Linked DNA regions of Homo sapiens: regions 1 and 2 are each linked to region 3. The links come from fine-mapping of genetic effects on gene expression. Tissue or cell type: esophagus mucosa. Region 3 holds a variant in brackets; each other region holds the start of a gene. All regions are shown on one strand. Distances are from middle to middle.

The links. PIP is the estimated chance that this variant, and not a neighbour inherited with it, causes the effect.
Region 1: it holds the start of CDH16, and the variant in region 3 is fine-mapped to the expression of CDH16 in esophagus mucosa (GTEx, PIP 0.98).
Region 2: CIAO2B starts here. The variant in region 3 is fine-mapped to the expression of CIAO2B in esophagus mucosa (GTEx, PIP above 0.99).

Annotation. Positions count from the first base shown.
Region 1 is chr16:66,915,349-66,923,440 of GRCh38, reverse strand. It overlaps CDH16 (cadherin 16), which reads left to right and starts at 4,556. Exons shown (of 18, transcript NM_004062.4): 1 at 4,556-4,637; 2 at 5,363-5,420; 3 at 5,716-5,799; 4 at 7,012-7,167; 5 at 7,238-7,376; 6 at 8,063-8,092. The coding sequence starts at 5,376. RRAD (RRAD, Ras related glycolysis inhibitor and calcium channel regulator) reads left to right here. Exons shown (of 5, transcript NM_004165.3): 5 at 1,088-1,756. The coding sequence ends at 1,365. RefSeq lists enhancers at 752-1,275, 1,276-1,799.
Region 2 is chr16:66,931,154-66,939,245 of GRCh38, reverse strand. CIAO2B (cytosolic iron-sulfur assembly component 2B) reads left to right here and starts at 4,844. Exons shown (of 5, transcript NM_016062.4): 1 at 4,844-5,023; 2 at 5,180-5,259; 3 at 5,507-5,632; 4 at 6,421-6,466; 5 at 6,946-7,181. The coding sequence starts at 4,882. The coding sequence ends at 7,043. CES2 (carboxylesterase 2) reads right to left here and starts at 3,730. Exons shown (of 12, transcript NM_001365405.1): 1 at 3,535-3,730; 2 at 1,005-1,209; 3 at 1-29. The coding sequence starts at 3,610. RefSeq lists enhancers at 3,508-4,120, 4,959-5,158, 5,189-5,238.
Region 3 is chr16:66,893,770-66,901,870 of GRCh38, reverse strand. It overlaps LOC124903700 (a long non-coding RNA gene), which reads right to left. Exons shown (of 2, transcript XR_007065089.1): 2 at 4,857-6,876. It overlaps LOC107984821 (a long non-coding RNA gene), which reads left to right. Exons shown (of 3, transcript XR_001752244.2): 2 at 1,203-1,278; 3 at 1,378-2,182. Among named protein-coding and RNA genes, the nearest start is that of PDP2, 17 kb to the right of the region's middle. RefSeq lists enhancers at 974-1,867, 1,868-2,763. The variant A/G (reference allele first, on the strand shown) is at 4,427.

The DNA of each region.
Region 1 (8,092 bases), 22 kb before region 3:
GTCCCTGGGGATCATCAGAGGCTAAAAATGTTCAGAAAGAAAACTGGCGGGGAGGGAAATGGGAGAGAGCTGGTGCCTGCTCACAGGGCTCCGGAAGGCCCCAGAGGGCTGGGGAAAGAACCAAATCTGATAGGGGAGCTGGGCACCGCAGGGCCCTCCTCTCCTGCCCCTCTTGGTCCTGGCCTGGCTGGTTGGGGGGGTAAATGGGTGGAAGAGAGTGTAGGGGAACAGGCCAGGAGGTCAGAGCCTGTGTGCTAGGTCTGGGCCATTCTTAGAGTAGACTTGGCCCTGGGGAAGACCCTTCCCACTTGGCCTCAGCATCCTTTTCTGTGGACCCCAGTACTGAGCCCCTCAGAGGAACCCAGCAGTGACTTGGTGACCTTGCCTCCGCAACCCCAGTCCACTGGATCATTCATCATGATATAACCTCGAATTAAAAAATACTAAGTTGTGCGGGGCATGGGCCAGGGGGTGGCTAACGCCTGTAATCCCAGCACTTTGGGAGGCCGAGGCGGGTGGATCACGAGGTCAGGAGATCGAGACCATCCTGGCTAGCATGGTGAAACCCCATCTCTACTAAAAATACAAAAATTAGCCGGGCGTGGTGGCGGGCGCCTGTAGTCCCAGCTACTCGGGAGGCTGAGGCAGGAGAATGGCGTGAACCCGGGAGGCGGAGCTTTCAGTGAGCAGAGATTGTGCCACTGCACTCCAGCCTGGGAGACAGCGAGACTCTATCTCAGAAAAATAAAATAAAATAAAATAAAATACTAAGTTGTCCAACATAGTTCTCATTTTCCTGTGTTTACTACTGTCGTACTTTGTTTAAATATCAGGCTTCAAATTATTTCAATAAATGGATCTCCTTTTGAGGGCCACTGTTTTGGGGGCTCCTTAAATGCAGGCACTCTGCCTACTGGGTGACGCAGCAGTGCCCAGTACCCTCAGTACAGGAGCTGGGGTCTCTGTGTTTTCGGGGAGGACCTTGCAAATTCTCGAGTGGCAGCTTCCATGGGTGGCCACTGTTGGAGGGGACTCCTCATTCACCCACCCTTTGTTTACTGGTGCCTGCCTTTCCCCACCCACACAGAGGGCCGGGCCTGCGCGGTGGTCTTTGACTGCAAGTTCATTGAGACATCAGCGGCATTGCACCACAATGTCCAGGCGCTGTTTGAAGGTGTCGTGCGCCAGATACGCCTGCGCAGGGACAGCAAAGAAGCCAACGCACGACGGCAAGCAGGCACCCGGAGGCGAGAGAGCCTTGGCAAAAAGGCGAAGCGCTTCTTGGGCCGCATCGTAGCTCGTAACAGCCGCAAGATGGCCTTTCGCGCCAAATCCAAGTCCTGCCACGACCTCTCGGTTCTCTAGGTCCCACCCGCTCCCACTATGGTGGGAGACGAACGGAAGGGTTGGTGGGCTGGCCCAGCCAACTGCCCCGGGTGCCTCAGAGCAGGCTCAGACTCTGGGTCCCTCGGAGCTGCCAGCCGGGCACCCCCAACCTCATGGTCATGGACAGATAGACAGTGCTGCCCTGCGAAGTGGCTCTCAGGGGCCAGTGAGGGCTGGGCCCACAGAGATGCATGCGCAGGCTCATATGCGTCCCAAGCAGCCGCAGCGCAGCCGCCGGGCAGGCCTGCGTGCCGGGAGAGGACTCTGCCTTTTTTCACAGCCCGGGTGTGCCTGCCCTGGAGGGAGGCTCTTCAGTGCGGTAGCTATTTGTTTACATGCAGATTTTTGTAATAAAGGCTATTTCCTGATAGTCATGGCTGTTGACTCTCTTTCCTCCTATCTGGGCGCTTCAGGAGCTGGAAGGATTTCTGAAGTTGAGGGATGGGGGCTCACTGCCCCACCCTAGTGTGTGGCCATGATGTGTTAATGTGAGGGTCCAGATTTAGCCAGCTGGGATGGGCATCGGGTCTGGTTAGAGGTTCAAGGAGCAGGAGACACAAACCCCTCCCAGTCCCTGTTATCCAGATTCTTCTCTTTCTGCACTGGGGCCTGGCGTTGCCCAACTGATTGAGGGTTCAATCACTTCACTGTCCATAAAGGGAAACAGGCTGCTCAGGGGAGCACATTCTGCCCTGGGTCTCACAACCAGGCAGGAACCCTGGGTCTCACAACCAGGCAGGAACCCTGGGTCTCACAACCAGACAGGATCTGGCTCCACAGCTGGTATTTCTGCCCTGTTCCCTCTTGAGGGGCTGGAATCAGCTGAGGTTGGGGATAGAGACCTCCGAGGGGTGGTTTGTGAAGGCACACACAGCTCCACATGGCTCCTCCACCACTTCACTGGGGTTGAGCTACGGAGGAGGCACTCACTGTTCTCTCTACCATGAGTATCCAGGCCAGAACATTCCATGCTCAGCATTGGCTAATTCAGTTTTGGTGGGAACAGCTGCCGGGAGCCCGCCCTGCCTGGAATGAGAGGTCTTGCATTTGTATAGGAAGGTGTACTCGTGCTTATGTTTAGGGATGCACCTGTCTCCCTGCCCACCCATGCCCATGGCTCCCTCACCCTCGGCACAAGTGCTGCTAAGAGTTTTTATCTACATGGTCTCAGGAAAAACCATCCCCATCTGGTGCTGGGTGGGAAGTGGCTGAGTGGGGACTGGTATACAGGTCTGCCCATCTCCAAAGCCTGGAGGCAGCCTGGGGCGAGGTGGGGGGCAGTTTCTAAGAAGGTTCTGGGCCAAGGTCCATACATTCCTTCCTTAGTTCAATTTATTCAATTTATTCATTCCCTCACCCTCGGCACAAGTGCTGCTAAGAGTTTTTATCTACATGGTCTCAGGAAAAACCATCCCCATCTGGTGCTGGGTGGGAAGTGGCTGAGTGGGGACTGGTATACAGGTCTGCCCATCTCCAAAGCCTGGAGGCAGCCTGGGGCAAGGTGGGGGGCAGTTTCTAAGAAGGTTCTGGGCCAAGGTCCATACATTCCTTCCTTAGTTCAATTTATTCAATTTATTCATTCCACAGACTCCAGGGAGCCCTGGCAACCTGGTTAGAATCCTGATTGCAGCTTATTGAATGGCAGGAGGAGGCTTGAGGGCTGCCCCTCCATGTACAGGGGAGCGCTGAGATTCACCCACGTGCTCCCCAGGGCAGAGGTAACTGCTCAGAGCTGTTGCTGCTCTGCCCCTCCTCCCCACATACTTCAAGGAATGCAGAAGGCATGGTATTTTCAGATCAAGTGAGGGTCCCCAGGCCTTCCTGGCTCTGTCACTTATTGACTGTGTGACCCTAGGCAAACCACTCAGCTTCTCTGTGCCCCAGCATGTGCCCAATGCCCCTTCAGAACGCAGTATGTGGCATAATGAAGGTATGTGCTCAGAGCAGTGCTGGGCACAGAGCAGGAGCTTAACACGTGTGAAACCCCCTTCAACCTCCCCACACTACACTGCTCCAGGCTGGGTGCCAGAGTGACCCTGAAGCAGGCACTCAGCTTGTGACAAGGCTGGGGGCAGCTGGGGGTAGCTTCTGGCCTGAGAGAGACTAATCAGATGTACAGTGGGAAGGACTTCGTGGGGACCATGGGAAGCTCCAAGGCTGGAGAGGGACTGGAGACCTTCTTCCCACCCTCTCCCCTCATTCCAGACTCCCAGGCCCCAGAAGCATCTCCTGGCTCTGCTTGGCTGCCCTCATTGCGGGGAGAGCCCCTGTTCAGCCCTGCAACTCCCTCAAGGTCACCTGAGCCAGTTTAATCTTCTTAGGGGCATGAGACTGCCCACTGTCTCAGCCCTGTCACTGTTGAGTGGCCAGTGTAAGGACTTCGGGAGCTCATAGGCTGCTGCACTCCCCCACCACAGGTCCCCCTGGGGGGGGTGGTCTGGAGCCCCAATACCCACTTCCACTCATGTACTGCTCACCCATCCTTTGCAACCTCCAGCTCCTTGTCTTAGTTCCACAAGCCATGCGGAGCTGCCAGGGCAGAATGAGAGCCAGGTCATTCCTGAGTCCCTGAGTTCTGCTCTCAAAGGGCTCCCAATCTAATGGAAGAGGCAGACAATGACAAGCTGGTGTCCTCTGTGTATTAATAGAGATAGCACATGGCATGGTGTGAGGGGGAGGGGCATTCCCAGAGGAGGCTCCTGAACAAGCCTGGGAACATAGGGGAAGTTTCCTGGAAAAAGGAATATTTGAGCTGAGCACTGAAGCATGCATGAGCAGGTGCTTACCACACAGATGAATGAGTGGGAAGGGTGTTCCATGCAAAAGGAACAGAGTGTGAAAAGGTGTGGCTGCAGACACTGGAGCCTGGGAGATAAGTCAGACCAAGTCTGGAGCCACAGAAAAAGTAACGTCCAGAACCAGAGGGCCAAGGAATACCTCCTGGGCTGTGCTGGGGTCGAGGGAGTGCCAGGCCAACCATCTCCCCACCTCCTGGAGCTGGCAGTCACGGATGCTGAGCAGCTCCTGGCTTTCCAAAGTCAATGAGTAACTTGGGGGGCTGGGCGGGGCCAGGCCTGCTGCTGTGGGCCCAGTGGCCTTTTCCACTCCTGAGCAAGCGTGGCTGAACCCTCCTACCTGCTCAAGTGCCCTGCCTTGCCCCACCCAGCCCAGCCTGGCCAGAGCCCCCTGGAGAAGGAGCTCTCTTCTTGCTTGGCAGCTGGACCAAGGGAGCCAGTCTTGGGCGCTGGAGGGTGAGGGGCTGGGAGTGGAGGGGAGGGCATGGCTGAGGCTGAGGTTGGTGGTGGGGAAAGGAGAAACACTGCCCTGTCCTCGCCATCTGGGAAAGAATTCCCAGGGCCTCATCTTAGAGGGGTTGTCGATTTGTCGCTGCTCTGCCTGCCCAGCTCCATGACAAGGGCTGGAAAATGATGAGACAAGGGCCGGGCTCCTGCTCCGGGGGTTCTCCTTGTCTAGAAGGTGGCAGTGGGAGGCAGGACAGTCCCAGAGGCCCTGAGCTAGGAGGACTCCTCCTGTGGTCAAGTCCTCTGTGACCTTGGCCAGACCCCAGCATTCAGGCCTTGCCTGCAACAAGAGGTGACTTCAGGAAGTGACCCTCCAAGTCTTCAGGAACTTTCCAGCTTCAAACTTTTGTGATTTGGGGGATTGCTAGAAAATTACCACTTTGGGATCTGCGGCCTGGGGAGGCTATGGTGAGAAGGAGCTGGAGGTCTGGAGGTGAAATTCTGATAGAGTGCTTGATGGACCAAGAGCCTAGAAGCAGGGTGGCTGGGCCTGGGGGCCTTGGTGGGCCTGGCCGAGGAGCAGGGCACTACCCTGCAGGAGATGGAGAGCCTCAGCTCCTTTGGAGGGGAGGAAGAGAAGACTAGTCTGCAGTACGATCCCACTAGTTGTGTGTGTGGGATGGAAAGCCCCTCCCTACCCACCTGGGCTGGATCCTCACTGCCGTGTCCCTCAGGCCTGTCCTGACCATGGTCCCTGCCTGGCTGTGGCTGCTTTGTGTCTCCGTCCCCCAGGTGAGCTAGGCCCTGCCCCCTCTCCTTCAGGTCTTGGCTTTGGGGGTTGACACCCTTGCCCCCAACTCCACCTGGACCAATTGCACTGACCGTGAGAACGGTGCAAGGCATGGGAGGGGTCAGAGCTGGGACTATAGAGCCACTGTGGGATGAGGAGGTCAAAGACCAGAGCGCGGGTGGATGGACTAAGGTACAGCCAGGCCCTGGGAAGGGGCGGAAATTCCGCTCTTCTGTTGGGTCTCAGTGCCCACGCAGGAAGATAGAGCCTGGTGACAAGGTGAGAATCCTCCCACAGGCTCTCCCCAAGGCCCAGCCTGCAGAGCTGTCTGTGGAAGTTCCAGAAAACTATGGTGGAAATTTCCCTTTATACCTGACCAAGGTGAGCCGGAGAGCTGGGGTTGGGGCCGGGGGGATCCCTCCCCGCAAAGTCCTGCTTCTCCTTCCTCTGGCACCCTTCCTCTTGCTGTTTCTCTTTGAAATCCTGCTTTCCAGAGAGTATGTACACGTTACACAGGTTGAGTGTCCCCTATCTGAAATGCTTGGGACCAGAAGTGTTTCAGATTTTGGATTTTTTTTTTTCTTCAGATTTTGGAATATTTGCATATATATCATGAGATATCTTGGGGAATGGAACCCAAATCTAGATAGGAAATTCATTTATGTTTCATATACATCTTATACACATAGCCTGAAGGTAACGTTATACATTTTTTTTTCTTTTGAGACGAAGTTTCGCTCTTGTCGCCCAGGCTGGAGTGCAGTAGCATGTTCTCAGCTCACTGCAACTTCCACGTCCTGGGTTCAAGAGATTCTCCTGCCTCAGCCTCCTGAGTAGCTGGGACTACAGGCATGCACCACCACTCCTGGCTAATTTTTTTTTTTTTTTTTTGTATTTTTAGTAGAGACAGGGTTTCGCCATGTTGGCCAGGCTGGTCTTGAACACCTCACCTCAGGTGAGCCGCCCGTCTTGGGCTCCCAAAGTGCTGGGATTACCACTTTGGGATTTGCGAGCTGGGGAGGCTATGGCCAGAAGGAGCTGACAGTACAGAGGTGAAATTCCGACAGAATCCTTGAGTGGCCAAGAGCCCAGTGTGAGTCTGCTCCTGGGCGAATATTTTTAATGATTTTGTGCATGAAACAAAGTTCTGACTATGTGTTGACTGTGACCTGTCACATGAGGTCAGATGCGGCATTCTGTACTTGTCACATCATATTGGCGCTCAAAAAGTTTCAGATTTTGAGTATTTCAGATTTCAGATTTTCGGGTTAGAGATGCTCAACCTGCAGTGGGAATGACTAACAGATTTTAATCCTAGTGGAGAGCAGAGCTTTAGATTAAAGAACGAAATCTCGGTGGTGAGGTTTCAAGCTTCAGAAAGAAGGGCAGAGAGTTTTGGGGAGCATCAGGTCCAGGGAAAAGAGTTCTGGCTCTGAGTCTCAGTCCTGATGCTTACTGGCTGTGTGACCTCTGACAGGAGCCAGATGTCTCTGAGACTCAGTTTCCCCACATGTAAAATGAGGCCATCAGGTGGAGGAGGGGCATCTCCCAGGCCTGGCCACCGCTCCCTTCACTTCTGTTCATTTCCATCAGTTGCCGCTGCCCCGTGAGGGGGCTGAAGGCCAGATCGTGCTGTCAGGGGACTCAGGCAAGGCAACTGAGGGCCCATTTGCTATGGATCCAGATTCTGGCTTCCTGCTGGTGACCAGGGCCCTGGACCGAGAGGAGCAGGCAGAGTACCAGCTACAGGTATGGCTGGGCCAGGTGTAGGGGAGAGCAGGCAAGGCAGAGCCAGACGCTGACTCCCCTTCCCTGCCAGGTCACCCTGGAGATGCAGGATGGACATGTCTTGTGGGGTCCACAGCCTGTGCTTGTGCACGTGAAGGATGAGAATGACCAGGTGCCCCATTTCTCTCAAGCCATCTACAGAGCTCGGCTGAGCCGGGGTACCAGGCCTGGTGAGTGACCAGGGCAGCCAATTTACAGTAAGGTCAGGTGGGCCTTGATGGAACAGCAGAGAGCGAAGAGATGGCCAGACAGTTGGCATAGGACAGGGCAGCCATTTCTGTCCCATTTCTTTTTTCTTTTCTTTTCTCTTTTTTCTTTTCTTTTTTTCTTTTTTTTGAGATGGAGACTCACTGTCACCCAGGTTGGAGTGGAGCGCAATGGCGCGATCTCAGCTCACTGCAACCTCCACCTCCTAGGTTTAAGCAATTCTCCTGCTTCAGCCTCCCAAGAAGCTGGGATTACAGGCACCCGCCACCATGCCCGGCTAATTTTTTTTGTATTTTTAAAAGAGACGGGGTTTCGCCTTGTTGGCCAGGCTGGTCTCGAACTCCTGGCCTCAGGTGGTCTGCCTGCCTCAGCCTCCCAAAGTGCTGGAATTACAGGCATGAGCCACTGCACCTGGCCCATCCTGTACCATTTCTGTCCCACCTTGTTCCTCCCTACTCCACTGAGGGTGCCATCCATTCTTGGCTTCAGTTTGCTCATCTGGGAAGTAGGACGAAAAGCCGTGGCTCATCTCCGGAGTCCTGATGTGATAATGGATAGGGAAGAAAGGACAGAGGAGAAATAGGAGAGGCATGGGAGACTCTCCCCACCCTCTCTATCCCTTACAGTTTGCCCTCCCACCGTGAACCAGGCATCCCCTTCCTCTTCCTTGAGGCTTCAG
Region 2 (8,092 bases), 37 kb before region 3:
ACTCCACTGCGGTGAGGTCCTGTAGACACCTGGTAACCAGGGCAAATAATCAGTCCAGGGGCCAGGCTGTGGCCAAAACCAGACCCTGGGTTCAGAGGTGCTCCCAGCCACCCTCAGACCCTTCCCACAATATCCTGCTCACACATGATCCCTCTCAAAAATCCCTTCCCACCAAGTTACAGGCCACAGGCTCTGGGGAAGCTGGGATGCAGCTTGGACTTCCAGGGAGGCCTCGAGGTTACTGAGGACCTTGGGTATCATTCCTCGCACTGCCGGAAACCTTGACTCTTAGGGGTTTCTATGAGAACCATTGGCTGCATGTGTTGACATTCACCACTATATTCCTGTAACCCGTAAGGCCTGGGACAGGGGAGTAGCCCACATATGTGTGCTACATGAGTGAATGGATGTTAATTTCTCATGAGAAGGGCAGTGGGATGTCTCTCATCCCAAGTCTAAACTCTCAAAAACTCATCATTCCTACATGGCCTCCAGTTGGAAACATATACATATACATATACATGTCTCTTGGCCAATGGCTCCTGGTCCTGTCAGTGGACACAGTGCCTGTGGAGAGTGCAGGTCCCCAGAAAGCTACCACTACTGTTCTCTTCAGGTATTTGCAACATCTGCCACTAGAGTTAGGGGCTCCTACAAGGTTCATAGAGCCAACCCGAACCTTTCCCAGAGACACCTGCCACTGGTGGCAGAGAAAGCTTGGCATAACCAGAATCTGGGGAGATACGTGTGTCTGCCCCTCCCTTCGGCACCTGGAGCCAATGTCTTCTGAATGCCAAGCCCTGATCCAGGAGTCTGAGAAGTTATTCTGCCCTCCTGAGCCTCAGCATGCTCATTGGAAAAATGCACGTGGGAATCCACGAAACTCAGAAGGAAAACTGGCTGTGGGGGTTTAGATGAAATGATAACTGCAGCCTAGCTGAGCTCAGAGCACCCCCACCCCTGCCCCAGGGCCTGGAGTTCCCTGGACCCCTTGGAGAGCTTACATGGCCGGATGGGTGGTTCCATCCCTCACACCACTCCAAGATTCAGGGGGCTCAGGGGGTGCAAATCGCAGCGGACCTAGAGGTGGCTTGGCAAATGGAATTCCCAGGAAGGTTTGGACCCCGGCATTGGCGCCCTTCACATGGACAAGACTCCCCAGCACCTGCCCCGTGTGTGTGGTCCGGATGGGACTGGCTGAGTCCTGGCCTGTGGGCAGAGAGACAGACATCACGGTTGGGTTTGACCAATCGACTGCCCTCCCAACTGTTGGTATTGCTGCTTCCTTGCCATCCTCATCTTAGCTCAAGGGACTCTGATCTGTAAACATGGGCTTTACAAACTTCCTGCCTGTAACACTCCCTTCCCGCTCTGGCTTCCTGGGCCTGTCTCCATCCCACCAGGCTGAGGCTCCTTGGGGCCAGGCATCATCATTCAGCCCTAGGACCTTCAAACAAAGGGTCACATGCCCTTGATGGGACTAGAGTGTCCTTCAACTGTGTGCCAGGTCATGTGACAGTAGGATGATGGTGGGAATTGGGCAGGCAAGTTTCTTGTCCTCAGGGATGTCATGTCCAAAGTGGCAAGAAATCATGTAAAGAAAGCATCATCCAAACCATGAGTGATGTTGGTGAAAAGAGGTGCAAGAGAAAAGTATGGCTGTGGCTGGGATATAAAAAGCACAGTGACTGGCCTGGGGACCATAGTGGGACTCTGTCTCTGCAAAAAAATCAGGAAATAAATTGGCGGGGTGTGGTGGTGCATGCCTGTAGTCCCAGCTGTAGAAAAGCCTGGCTCCAGAAAGTGGGTGAGTTTATGACTGTTTAGATGAAAATCAAGGACAAGTGCACACATCTATTCTTGTGTAAACTGCTGGGCACTGTGTGTACTGCGGTGTCAACAAGCAGTTTCCAGTGTGGGCCATGGGGACTTTGATGGCCCCTGAGGAGAAGCCAGGACTGGTTGGGTAAAAAGAGGATGGCACACATCACCTGTACCCTCCTATGGCTTGTCAATTATTTTTTCTGAATGTGGGTCCAACCCAAAATTTTGTATACATATATATTTGTCAGACAAGGTCGCCATCTGTTGCCCAGGCTGGAATGCAGTAATATGATAACAGCTCACTGCAGCCTCCACCTCCTGGGCTTGAGATCCTCCCGCCACAGCCTCCTGAGTAGCTTGGAGTACAGCTGTCTGCCACCATGCTTGACTTTTTTTTTTTTTTTTTTTGGTAGAGACAAGTCTTGTTGCCCAAGCTGGTCTCTAACTCCTAGCCTCAAGTGATCCTCCCATCTCTGCCTCTCAAAGTGCTGGGATAACAGGTGTGAGCCACTGTGCCTGGCCCAAAATATTTTAAAAGGTAGCCATCTGTGAGGCCAGGCAGATCTTCCTGCTGGGCTCCTGGTGAACTCTAGAATGTGGTCAAGGGCAGGCACGGGAGGAAGCCCTGCAGCAGTGCACCATGGGGCGGGGGGAGTATGGACTCCACCTGCGCAAATTAAATTGGGGAAGGGTTGGAAGAGACAGATCATACACTTAGGAGAGTTTCGGGTGAGAGGACCAAAGGCCGAAACACTCCCCCAGCTTCTGATAAGGGCCTGGAGAAGCCTGGCAGGCACACAGAGCCTTCACCTTTGCCCTGGAAGCCAAGTTGTGCCCTTGCCCAGGATGAGGTAAATGGCATGAGGGACACCACGAGCTCTTTGGTTCTTGTTTCTGGAGACAGATTTTTGCTTTTTCACCCAGGCTGGAGTGCAGTAGTGGGATGAAGGCTCACTGCAGCCTCAACCTCCCCTACTAAAGTGATCTCCCACCTCAGCCTCCCAAGTAGCTGGGACTACAGGTCACAGACCACCACAGCCCACTAATTTCTTTCAATTTTTTGTACACTCCGAGTCTCACTATGTTGTCCAGGCTGGCCTCCAACTCCTGGGCACAAGCGATACTCTCCCTTGGCCTTCTAAAGTGGTGGGATTAAAGGAGTGAGCCAATCGCACCCAGCCACTGTGGCCTCTTAGATCTGCTTTAGGATTTGGCGCCTGGGGGCTTCTGTTCCCCAAGGACCACTATCCTTGTCTGAGGCCCCTTTGGAGGGCTCAGGGCATCCCCCCTGGCCAAGGACGCCACACACTGAGAGCCAGATGCTGCCAGAAGCTATTACTGTTATTACCGGCCGGCAGCACCCGCTACAGCCACAATCATAAGAGGGAAATGGACTGAATCCCCACACCCCAATCCCTCACCCACTCCGACCCCAGGCTGCCTACCCGGCCTGGCATGTCCCGGCGCTCCTGGGGCCCCTGTACTCCGCTGGTTCCTTGCCGTGGTGTCCCCCAGCCCGACCCTTTCTGTGCTTCTAGGAGCCCACCTTGGGCGGCGGGGAGGCGTTGCGTGGGGCTCACGAGTTCCACGCTGTCATCTCCACCAGCTCCTACCTCCCAGGCGCCTGCCCTCCCGCACTGTCAGGTTCTGCCTCCGCAGCATTTGGCAGATCTGAGCCCGGTCCCTGTCGCCCCTCCGAGGGAGCCTCACCCTGGCCCCGGACAAGAAGCAGCAGAAGCCCACAGGCCACCGCGCTCAGCCGCGCACGAAGTCTGTGCAGCCGCATGGTCGGCTCGCTGGTCTCGGTTCGCTGCCGGCGGACACGCTGCTGTTCACCCAGAGGCTGCCCCGGGTCTGTCCAGCAGTGGATCAGTGCCTTGCCCAGCCTTGGAGTTTGGACTGGGCAGGGAGTCAGCGGGGTGCGCTGGCTTGGGCCGGGAAAGGTGGGTGTGGTAGGAGAGCGGGACTGAGCAGTCATAGGTGGGTGGGGATCTAGTGGTAGGCAGGCCCGGGCACGGCCACTTTCCTTTGCCCGGGCTCCTTTGGCATCCTCGGAAGGGGCTGTGCCATTCCTGCAGCCCTTCCGCGATCCAGGGAATCCTCTCTTCAAACCTGTCCTTGTCCACAGGCCCGATGAGCGCGCTGGGGGATCGATAGGAGGGGGCAATAAACTAGAATTGGAGACCCCAGGAGGGCTTCTCTGAGGATGTGCACGTTCAGGATCCCCCAGATGGAGAAATGGGAAGGAACTTGATCGGGGTGAAGGAACCGCTTGAGCAAAGGCAGGAAGGAGTGTCGGCGCCCTTCATTCTGGAAGTTCCTCCTTGCTTTCAGGACTCAGTTTCCTGGGTTCCCCTTCACGGCCCCTCATCTCCTTACAGTCCAGGGTCTGAGGGTCTCCGCGGTCCCCTCCCTACTCAGTCACGCCATTCTTTTGAAACGTACACGTGACCGCGGCACTTCTTAAGGAGCGCCCCCCTTTTCCTCGGTGGCTTTCAGTTTCCTCACCTCCCGCGGAGACCACGGCCATGGTCATTTATCCACTTGACAAACATTTCACGAGCCCCTGCCGGTCCAAGCTGTGGGGACGCCGTACTCCCGGGCCTATGGTGCAGCAGGGGAGGCAGGCGCGTCACCGGGAGGTCCCGAGACACTAGGATCCCTGCCAGGCCAGAGGCGACCAACCGTCCTGGATACGGGAGCTCCCGGCCAGCCTGACTTCCAGGAGGAAGCGGTGTGGGGATTACCTCCGACCGCCTTTAGTGCCCCCTGAGACCTGGTTCTGGCCTCTACGTTTCAGCCCGCTACTGGCTCGCACGACCCAGCGCCGCCGTGGTCCCTTCTCAGCGCCTTCTGCTCCAGCGACCATCATGTTCCCGGGTCCGAGCAGCCAGGGCCGCGGTCACCGCTTCTCTCGCACCTCAGGCCGAGAACCCACAACGCGGCGTGTCCCTCGCGCGACTCCGTCGCCACGCCACGCCCCCTTCCCGTTCTCCGGAAGTGCGCGGGTTGGAGCGGAAGCGCACGCCTGCTAGGATCAGCGGTGGTGGTTCCGCGATGGTAGGCGGCGGCGGGGTCGGCGGCGGCCTCCTGGAGAATGCCAACCCCCTCATCTACCAGCGCTCTGGGGAGCGGCCTGTGACGGCAGGCGAGGAGGACGAGCAGGTTCCCGACAGCATCGACGCACGCGAGATCTTCGATATCCGCCGCTGCTGGGCGCGGGCGGGTTCCGGGGGCTTGCGGTGGGGGGAGCAGTGATATCGAGCAGCTGGTGGAGCCGCATCCCAGCAGGGCGTTCCTGGCAGAGGGTTCTAAGTGGGCAAGGGCGCAGAGTCCCTTTTCCTTCACTTCCCACATCTGATTCGCTCCATCAATGACCCGGAGCATCCACTGACGCTAGAGGAGTTGAACGTAGTAGAGCAGGTGCGGGTTCAGGTGAGTCACTTCCGAGGGGAGCGAGTTGTTCCAGAGAGTCAGAAAGGTTTCTGTGCAGCAGGAGCTGGCGTGCTCTATGCTCACGAACACCGAAGGGTATCTTTGGGGAGGGAGATTGTTGTGCCTATTTTATGGGTGTTGAAACTGAGGCCCATAGAAGTTGGATGATTTGCCCAAAACAACAAACTAAGAAGAGGGACCTTGGGCTGAGGGTGGTTGACTCTTGACATCTCTCCTCCACAACCAGGTTAGCGACCCCGAGAGTACAGTGGCTGTGGCTTTCACACCAACCATTCCGCACTGCAGCATGGCCACCCTTATTGGTCTGTCCATCAAGGTCAAGCTTCTGCGCTCCCTTCCTCAGCGTTTCAAGGTCAGTTGGAGCTGAGCCCCGGGAGTGAGACCAGGCATTGAGGGTCTACTGCTGAGGATGGGGACTGGGAGAGCATGAACATGGATAGGACATCAGAGTGGGGCCTGGAAGGATCCCCATTAGCAGAGAGGAAACTGGGAGGAAGCTTTCCAAGTCGATGTGACAAGAATAAAGATCTGAGCTGGAAAGTGGAGAAAAGTATTGAAGAGTGTGGCAGGAAGGGCAGTAGGGAGCGGCAGATGGGTTTGGACCAGGGGTGGGGCACAGGCAGGCCTTTAAATCAACAGTAGTGGGCCAGTTCTTTGGATAGAATTGGAATAGCTAGGGCCGGGCGCGGTGGCTCACGCCTGTAATCCCAGCACTTTGGGAGGCTGAGGCGGGTGGATCATCTGAGGTTAGGAGTTGGAGACCAGCCTGGCCAACATGGTGAAATCTCATCTCTACTAAAAATACAAAAATTAGTGGGGCGTGGTGGTGTGTGCCTGTGGTCCCAGCTACACGGGTGGCTGAGGAAGGAGAATCAAATTGAACCTGGGAGACAGAGGTTGCAGTGAGCCGAGATTGCGCTGCTGCACTCCAGCCTGGGCAACAGAGCAAGACTCAGTCTTGGAAAAAAAAAAAGAATTGGAATACCTGTGGATGGGTTTGGGGTGTAACGGAAGGGCCAGAGTCCAAAGGCATGATTAGGAGGAAGGATCAGCTGGAGATGGTGCCTGAGGGTCTGGGGGCTGCAGGGAAAAGTGTGGGTCGGTGGGTGGGTGTTCAGGCCCTGGTTATCTCCCTCCCAGATGGACGTGCACATTACTCCGGGGACCCATGCCTCAGAGCATGCAGGTAAGTGTGGACTGGTGGTGAGGGTGTTGGCCCGGGCACCCCCTAAGCAGTCTGAGGCTTCCCCCTTGCACAGGAGTCTATGGGCAAGACTGGAGATGGGTAACTGTGTGAGTGAAATTGCCAGAGACTCCTCAGTATGGGTTATAGCCTAGACCGAAGCTGGCCTGAGAAGACTCTCCTTTGCTTACCATGTCCTCTTCTCCCAAATCCCCTCTCACCAAATATACAGGACCAGAGTGTGTCAGGCTTCAGCAGCGCAGGAGGCAGCCAGGGGGAGGGATCCTAAGAAGGCAGATTAGGTGGGCTCAGGTGGTTGAAGTAGCCTGATCAATATGTGGGGTCCTGGGAAGGAGGTGACAGGAGGGCTCTGTTGCTGCGGGGGACATATCCTATATAGAGGTTCAGAGGTAGGGCTGGCTAGCACTCTGGCCAGAGCCTAGCTTTGACTCTGCCTTCCCCACACCCTTCTTCCCACCTAGTGAACAAGCAACTTGCAGATAAGGAGCGGGTGGCAGCTGCCCTGGAGAACACCCACCTCTTGGAGGTTGTGAATCAGTGCCTGTCAGCCCGCTCCTGAGCCTGGCCTTTGACCCCTCAGCCTGCATACTGGTATCCTGGTCCCAGCTCCTGCCAGGGCTGTTACCGTTGTTTTCTTGAATCACTCACAATGAGAAACTAACATTTTGCTTTTTGTAATAAAGTTAATTTATATTCAGTTCCCAGCATGCCTTGGTGTCTTTCATCTTGGTGGAGTCATTTGGAGTTTGAGGGGGGGATGGTGGTAGTAAGTGCCTCTAAAGGGTGGTGTACTTGCAACTTTTCGTAAAATAAAATCAAAATGGAAAGAGTAGTGTACGAATGTGCCTGTATGCTCACCACCACCAGTAGAGTCAACAGTTGTTGACATATTGCAACACTGGCCATATTTATGTGTGCATATATAAATATCAGTAAGTAAGCTGCAGAGACTTGACTCTTCACTTTGAAGTACTGCAGCTCCTATAGTCAATATAAGCCTGTATAGCCACAATACTTTTATCTGATCAGAAAATGAACAGTTCCTCAACACCATCTAATACCCAGGCATATCTGGATTTCCCTAATGTGTCATCATAGTTGTTTTTGTTTTGTTTTTGAGACAAGGTCTTACCCTGTTGCCCAGGCCCAGGTGCAGTGGCAAGATTGTAGCTCACTGCAGCCTCCAACTCCTGGGTTCAAGCAATCCTCCAGCCTTGGCCTCCCAAGTAGCTTGGATTACAGGCATACACCACCATTCCTGGCCAAATTTTTTTTTCTTTGAGGGGACACAGTCTTGCTCTGTTGCCCAGGCTGGAATACAGTGGCACAATTATACCTTTCTGCAGCCTTGACCTCCTGGGCTCAAGCGATCCTCCCACTTCAGCCTCCCGAATAGTTGGGACTACAGGCATGCACCACCGTGCCTGGCTAATTTTTAATTTTCTTGTAGAGACAGGGTCTCCTAGGTTGCCCAGGCCGGACTCTAGCTCCTGGGCTTAAGTGATCTTCCTGCCTCATCCTCCCAAAATGTTGGGATTACAGGTATGAGCCACCCCAACCAGCCCAATCAAAAGAATATTTATTTATTTATTTATTTATTTATTTTTA
Region 3 (8,101 bases):
TCCATGCCCAGAACCACAAGGGTTATTCTGAGTGGCAGGCACAGGGCCAGGCCTGGCCTCAGTCAGGTGGACCTGAGCTGGCAGTGGCATCCTCAGCCTGCGGGCTTGCTCTGTCCATTCAGGGACCCTAAATGTAGGTCGGGGGCTGGAACTGCGTGCAGGCTGACGCTCGATCGGTAGGGGCTTGAGTCCCAACTCCGCTATGTGACCTTGGGTAAGCCACTTGGCATCTCCGAGCATCTACCTCCTTCCCAAATGATGGGAACCCTGATCCCTGCCTCTCAGGGTGGGTGAGAGAATTTAGTGAGGCTGACAGATGGCACTCAATAGATGCACAAATCCCTGCTCATCTGTCCTGGAGTCTAGGCCCAGGGGTCCAGAGAGGGTAAGGGCCTTGCCTGAATTGCCTAGCAGCAGAAAGGTCCCTTCTCCTCCAACTCTGAAGAAGCAAGAGCCAGGCACAAGAGCACATTTCTGGGAGGGCATATAGGGATTTTCCAGGAACAGCTCCATCCAACTGGAGAATTCCATTCCCAGCCCTGCTGCCCAGGGCCCAGGCTAAGGAGGAGACACTCCAGCTCACTCTGGTTCTGTCCAGTTCCTGCTCCTCGCCGGCAGAGCCCAGGCAGAGTGCCCCACACCCTGTTCTCTTGCTGTTTGCTGTGGGGTTTGAGGGGCCTGAGGCTCCTAGGTGCCCCCCTCGAGGCCCTGGCACAGAACAGCTGGTCTGAGCACACAGTTGGTCCTCTCCCAACCCCTGATCCCTTCCAGGAGCCCACTGTTTCCTTCATCCAGCATGTCCTAGAATTTTCCCTGGACCCAGCTCCTGCCCTCAGGCTCACCCCAGATGAACATAGACAAGCTGACATGATGGACGCTGACTTGGGGACAGATGGCACCTGACCCAGCTCCAGGGTGGGGGTTGACAAAGGCAGCTGGAGAGGGGAAAGGTGGTCAGGTTGGGACAACTGTCTGGGCAAAGGCTCAGAGGTGTGGCTGTGCTCAGGGGATTGGGACACACTGCAAAGTTTCCTTAAGGCTGGAAGTCGCCTGATAGGCACCGGGGGGTGGGAGAGTGGGGGCGTGGGAGGTAGGGGGCAGGCAGAGGGTTGAACAGAATATTTATTTGCTGAGCTGGAATTGAGCCCTAGTCCCTTTCCCAACACAGACTTATCTCTTCCCCCCACAACCATCCTCACCAGAATTTTGGCCAGAAACAAGAGGAGTCCTGTCCGAGGAGAGCCCGGCTGGCTGACTGGAATCCCAAGACATGCCAAGGTGTTAGAGGCACTGCCAGGGAGACCCCTCGGCCCTTCACACAGTGGCTATCCTCTGGGATATTCCTGTATCCACAAAATGTATTTTCTGCACACACAGGTCCCTGGGAAATGACAGGACACCCAGATCTGCTGGGAGCAGAGTTCTCATAGGGTCCCAGCTGAGCCCTGGAACTCCCCAGACCCCCTCTGCCACTCCATCTCTGCGTCAGCCCAGCACCTGTGCCCTATCCGGCTTTGGCCACCATCTCCACCCTGGGGAGGGGGAGCATAACCCCCTCCAGCCTGAGGTTGGCGCCAAGGTTTAGGAGCCAGCACAGAAGCCTCTGAGAGCCATAAGGGTAGAAAAGGTTACCCGGTACTAAACCAGCCAGCCTCGGGGTGATCTCATCCACTTCCCAAGATAAGCCCCCTCCCCCACCCTCTGGCCACTGGCCAACAGGGTAAGTCACGAGGGAGCTGGTGGAAGAGTGTGTGTGAGGGCTGGGGGAAGGATTTCAACTTGGGGTCACACTGTACATTCTGTTTTGTGATCAATTCCCCCCAACATTTACAGTATTGACAATTAGCAGTTTCCTGTCAGATAAACTATAAAGATCTTCCCCCATCACTTTTTCTTTTCCTAATTATTTCTAAAGTCTGCCAGGATGGACACATCAGAATCTCTTTGTCCAGCCCTTGAGGAGGACATGTAAACAGTGTCCAGTTTCTCTTTCTTACAAACACCAGTGCCATAACCATTTTTGTTCAAATCCTCTTACGCAATTGCCTCTCTCTCTCTCTCCCTTTCTCTCTTTCTCTCTCCCTCTCTCTATTTCTCACTCAGTTGAGATAAATTCTGCCTGGTAGCAGGTGGGAGGGCAGGCCTCACTGTGTGCCTGAGTAGTTCTGGGCCCTTCCCCAAGCCAGAGGTGCCAGGCCCAGGGCAGAGGCCAGTCCAGGGCCACAGGGTCAGGACAGTGGACAGGCTATGGTCTGCTGGACTCTGCCTGCTCGAGGCGGGCTCCCCAAGCTTCCACCTGCTCTTGCCCACCCCCAGCCCCAAGGACTAGGCTGGCCTGGACACAGGGAAAGGCCATATACAGGGTATCACATGACCCATGCGTGCACACAGCCCCCAATCCCAGGCATAGGCAGAGGTCCCAGCCTCAGGGTGGGGCCCCCACACTCCGTCCAATTCACATCTTGCCTAGTGCTCCCCAGCTCTTGCTAGAATGCTTCCATAGACCAACAGCTCACTCTCCCTCCTAAGTTGCTGCCCGGCCTTTGGGGAGCAGGTGGAGCACATGCTTCTTATCAAATCAATACCTATTCGGTAGAATCACATGATTGCTGAGGAAGGTTTGGATTCAGACACCAGGGTTTCAAACTCGACTCTGCATTTACTATTTTTGTGACCTTGGGCACAACCTTTTACATGCCCAGGCTCAGTTTCTTCATCTGTAAAATGGGTTAATAATACTTGATCATAGGGTTGCATGAAGATTAAATGAGATAATACATGTAAAGTGCTCAGCAAGGCTCACAGATGTGACCTAGTTTATGATCACAAATTATCACAAATTGAGTCCCTACTATGTCCAGTTAACAGAGAGACTCCCTCACTGGAAGCAACTCAGAGTGGCTGAAGCACAGAAGTGGTAGAGGTATGAGATGGGGTTGAAGAGTGGGCAGGGCCAGGTCACACTCAGCCTTGCACATCATGAAGGGATTGTGACATTTTTCTGACTCCTTGGAAGCAGGGGAGGATGGTGGGAGGCAGAAATGGGAGGATGTCACTGAAAGCTTTTATTATTTTTTTTAATGATTTGTTTGTTTGTTTGTTTGTTTGTTTTAGAGACAGGTCTCTATTGCTCAGGCTGGAGTGCAGTGGCATGATCATAGCTCACTGTAACCTCAAACTCCTGGGTTCAAGCGATCCTTCTGCCTCAGCCTCCCAAGTGGCTGGAACTACAGGGGTGTGCGACCACTCCTGGCTCATTTTGTTCAACATTATTTTGTTACAACATTGATGAAGAAAAAAATCTATTTCTGGCTGGGGCTACTGTCTGTGTGGAGTCTGTAGAGGACTTTCTCTGGGTACTCTGGTTTCTTCCCCCATCCCAAAGATGTGCATGTTAGATTAACTAGCTTGTCTGCATGCTCCCAGTCTGCATGAGTGTGAGTGTACTCAAGGCAATGGCATCCTGTCTAGGCCTGGTTCCCGCCTGGCGCCCTGAGCTGCTGGGATAGGCTCCAGCCATCCATGACCTTGAACTGGAATAACTGGATAAATAATTCTATTACTTGTTTTTATTAATCTTTCTTTCTTTCTTTTTTTTTTTTTTTTTTGAGATGGAGTTTCACTCTTGTTGCCCACGCTGGAGTGCAATGACACAATCTTGGCTCACTGCAACCTCCGCCTCCTGGATTCAAGAAATTCTCCTGCCTCAGCCTCCTGAGCAGCTGGGATTACAGGTGCCCACCACCAAGCCCGGCTAATTTTTGTATTTTTAGGAGAGACAGGGTTTCGCCATGTTGGCCAGGCTGGTCTCAAATCCCTGACCTCAGGTGATCCACCTTCCCCAGCCTCCCAAAGTGCTGGGATTACAGGTGTGAGCCACCACACCTGGCCTTGTTTCTATTAGTCTTTCTTACACGTGTTTCAATGTTTAATATGAGAAGCATTTGGGTCTTTATTTAGAAGTCTGATGATATTTCTATCACCAGAAATATGCTGTAGGAACTTAACTCTTGTTTATGTCAATTAGCCTATGACAAAATTGGTTTCCTTGTATGTCATTTTGCTTAAAGCTGCAATTTCCAAGAACTACATTAAGTGAGGACATTATATAAAGACTTACTATATTCTATTAGTTGTTGTCAGGCCTCTGAGCTCAAGCTAAGCCATCATATCCCTTGTGACCTGCACCTATACATCCAGATGGCCTGGAGCAACTGAAGATCCACAAAAGAAGTGAAAATAGCCTTAACTGATGACATTCCACCATTGTGATTTGTTTCTTCCCCACCCTAACTGATCAATGTACTTTGTAATCTCCCCCACCCTTAAGAAGGTTCTTTGTAATTCTCCCCACCCTTGAGAAGGTACTTTGTGAGATCCACTCCCTGCCTGCCAAACATTGCTCCTAACTCCACCGTCTATCCCC[A/G]AACCTATAAGAGCTAATGATAATCCCACCACCCTTGCTGACTCCTTTTTCGGACTCAGCCCGCCTTGAGTCCAAAATAAATAAACAGCCTTGTTGCTCACACAAAACCTGTTTGGTGGACTCTCTTCACATGGACGTGCGTGAGACAGTTATAAGCAAGACTCTAAGGCCAGCCCAGATTCAAGAGGAGAGGAATTAGACCCCACTCCTTGATGGAAAGAGTGTCAAGGAATTTGTGGTTATCCTTAAAACCATAACAGGGCCAGCTGGAGCAACATGGCGAAACCTCATCTCCACAAAAAATACAAAAATTAGCCAGGTGATGGTGCACGCCTGTAGCCCCAGCTACTCGGAAGGCTGAGGTGGGAGGATCACCTGAGCCAGGGGAAGTTTGTCTCACGTGTCCGTGTGAAGAGACCACCAAACAGGCTTTGTGTGAGCAACAAGGCTGTTTATTTCACCTGGGTGCAAGTGGGCTGAGTCCGAAAAGAGAGTCAGCAAAGAAAGGGTGGTGGATTAATCATTAGTTCTTACAGGTTTTGGGATAGGCGGTGGAGTTAGGAGCAACGTTTGGCAGGCAGGGAGTGGATCTCACAAAGTACCTTCTCAAGGGTGGGGAGAATTACAAAGAACATTCTTAAGGGTGGGGCAGATTACAAAGTACATTGATCAGTTAGGGTGGGGCAGAAACAAATCACAATGGTGGAATGTCATCAGTTAAGGCTATTTTCACTTCTTCTGTGGATCTTCAGTTGCTTCAGGTGATCTGGATGTATACGTGCAGGTCACAAGGGATATGATGGCTTAGCTTGGGCTTAGAGGCCGGACATTGTTGAGGCTACAGTGAGCCATGATCCTGCCACTGCACTCCAGTCTGGGCAACAGAGTGAGACTCTGTCTCAAAACAAAAAGCCCATAGCAAGAAGCAAAAGTTGGAGGGTTCTCGGCTCCATCCCAGGGATAACCAGGGCACAGGCCCAATGCTTGCAAGAGGTGACTTCAGCTTGTGAGGAAAGACAAGGATCTCTTTCTCTTTTCCCACTCTTTCCTCCCTAACATTTTAAATGCATGTGCAAGTGCCTACTTCATACCAGGCACTGGGCTGATCCCTGGGGACTCAGAGGAGAGTCAGAGGAGGTCCCTGGTGCCGCCAAGAGGGCAGACAGACTGACAGACATTGGCAAGCTATCTGAGGAGATGTGATGGAGGTCCCAGTGCCATGGGAACTGGAGACAGGAGCTGGTACTGCCTGGAAAGCCAGGAAGTCTTCCCAGGGCAGGGGATGCTTCAGCAGAGTCATGCTGAGTCGCAGGAACAAGACAGGTGGAGGTGGATGGTGCAGTGGTAGGTGTTCCAGCGGAGGGAACAGCAAGGCCAAAGGCCTGGCATGTTCTAGGAACATGTGACAGCCATGCCCACCCTGCTGGGAACAGATGGAGGAGGCTGGAGAGGCCACCCTGGGGAGAGGGAGTCTGAGCTTTCCTCCTTAGGGTGAGGGGGAGCCATGGTTCGGAGCAAAGGAGTGACATGGTCACGATGACTGTGGTGTAGTGGGTGGAACTGACTAGACGGACAGCCGTCATTTGGGGCAGTGGAAGATAAAGGTGGTGTAGTCCATTATTGGAACTGGGACAGGGGAGGACAGATGGGAATGGCCCCCCGGGCTGCTGGAAGAGTGGTTGTGGGGACTGGCTGTAGGGAATGGGGTAGGGAGGATGGGGGTCAGAGGCATGGGGTGGTCCACAGAGGAGAACAGCCATGCGGGGGAAGATGGTCAAGGTGGCAGCCACTCCCCCACCATCTGGAGCTCACTGCCTGGCTCTGGCTTCTCCTGGGACCCCAGCAGTTCCTTCCCTACAAGACAGGGCTGGGTGACCACAGGACCGGCCCTTCCTCCACCCACACTTGTTCCCAGCCCCAAAGACATCCCAAGTCCCAGGAGGCTTTCCAAAGGTGCTCCAAGCTGCAGTCGCCAGGAGACCCAGCTTGGGCTGGGGACAGGCCTCAGGCCGCATCTCATGAACATTTTCCTCCAACGGCACTCAGCTGATGCCAGTGTGGTCAGATGGCGACATCTAGAGGCAACTTCTGCTTCATGCTGCCTCACTCACAGAACCCCACAGCCAAAGGCTCCCCACTGGTGTTCTCATCATGCCACCCTCAGGATTTAGTAACCAAGACACCAGTCAGAGCTTGGAAGAGCTTCTCCACCCCTTCATGCCAAAGCCCAGTACAGGGCTGGCAAGGTCCCTGGGACCCCAAGTGAACCGTGGACACTCTCCCCTTCCACAGGCCCAGGAGCATGCTGGCTGGTTGACAACCTTCCCCACACCATCCCTTCACTGCTTCGTTTCAGAGGAAGGGATTCTAGCAGCTCAGCCAACTCTCCGCTCATACAGCAATGTCCTCACCTCCGCCTCACCATCCGGGATCATCCTGTGTCCAGGGCCCTGAGTGAGAACACAGAATGGCCCTCACCTTTCTGTAGTGTTCCCCTTTTTCTGTTTTTGTTTGTTTGTTTTGTCTTGTTTTGTTTTGGAGACAGGAACTCATTCTGTCACCCAAGCTGCAGTGCAGTGGTGCGATCATCTCTCTTTGCAGCCTTGACCTCCCGGGCTCAAGCGATCCTCACACTTCAGCCTCCCAAGTAGCTGGGACCACAGGCATGCACTACTACACCTGGCTATGTAGTGTTCTTTTTTTGGCGAATTGTTCATTTCCATCCACCCACACCCAAAGCCCCTCTGGTACTGGACACTCCTCACCAACTTTCCTTGCTTTTCACAGCCATGCAGCCACTCACTGTTTGCCTCCTTCTCTCTCACCTGCTCCTCCCTGAATTGTCTATCCACCACACCATCAGTCCTCCCATCCTTCCTCACTCATTCCACAGGCAGCCTGTGCACCCCCAGGGCAGGACAGGGGACCAGGACTGTAGCCACAGGGGTGGGGATGAGGAGGAGGCAAACGAGGAAACAAGAATACCCAAAAGCCCTGGTATCAACATGCAGGGAAAGTGGGGGACTGAGGCAGGACTTTCTGCTTTGCCCCCTCCCTACCTCTATGCTGATGAAGAGCCAGCCATGCCTCCAGCCCTTCCTGAGGCCACCACATGATCTTGCTTATTTTCCCATTCCAGGAGGTCACCTGCAGGGCTCCTCCCACCTAGCCACAATGGCTAGTCCCGCTGCCTCCACAGTGGCCCTGCAGCCCCATCCCAGACCCACTGCACGGGGTCACAAGCTTGTGCAGGGTGGACAGAGCAGTAGCTCATGGCAGACATTCCTTCTGTTCATCTGTTGCAGGGAAAATGGGGTGAGGCATGGGAGGGGTTCCCAGAATCCCAGAAAGGCAGAAGGAGTTGAGATCTGAGACAGAGTAGGCTTTGGAGACTCCCTCCACAGACCACTCTCCCAGGGGCTAGGTTAATGGGCCTGCTTTGGGAAGCTGGGGCAGGTGAATCACCTGAGGTCAGGAGTTCGAGACCAGCCTGGCCAACATGGTGAAACCTCATCTCTACTAAAATACAAAAATTAGCCAGGTGTGGCTGCACATGCCTGTAGTCCCAGCCACTCGGGAGGCTGAGGCACAAGAATCACTTGAACCCAGGAGGTGGAAGTTGCAGTGAGCCAAGATCACGTCACTACACTCCAGCCTGGGTGACAGAGTGAGACT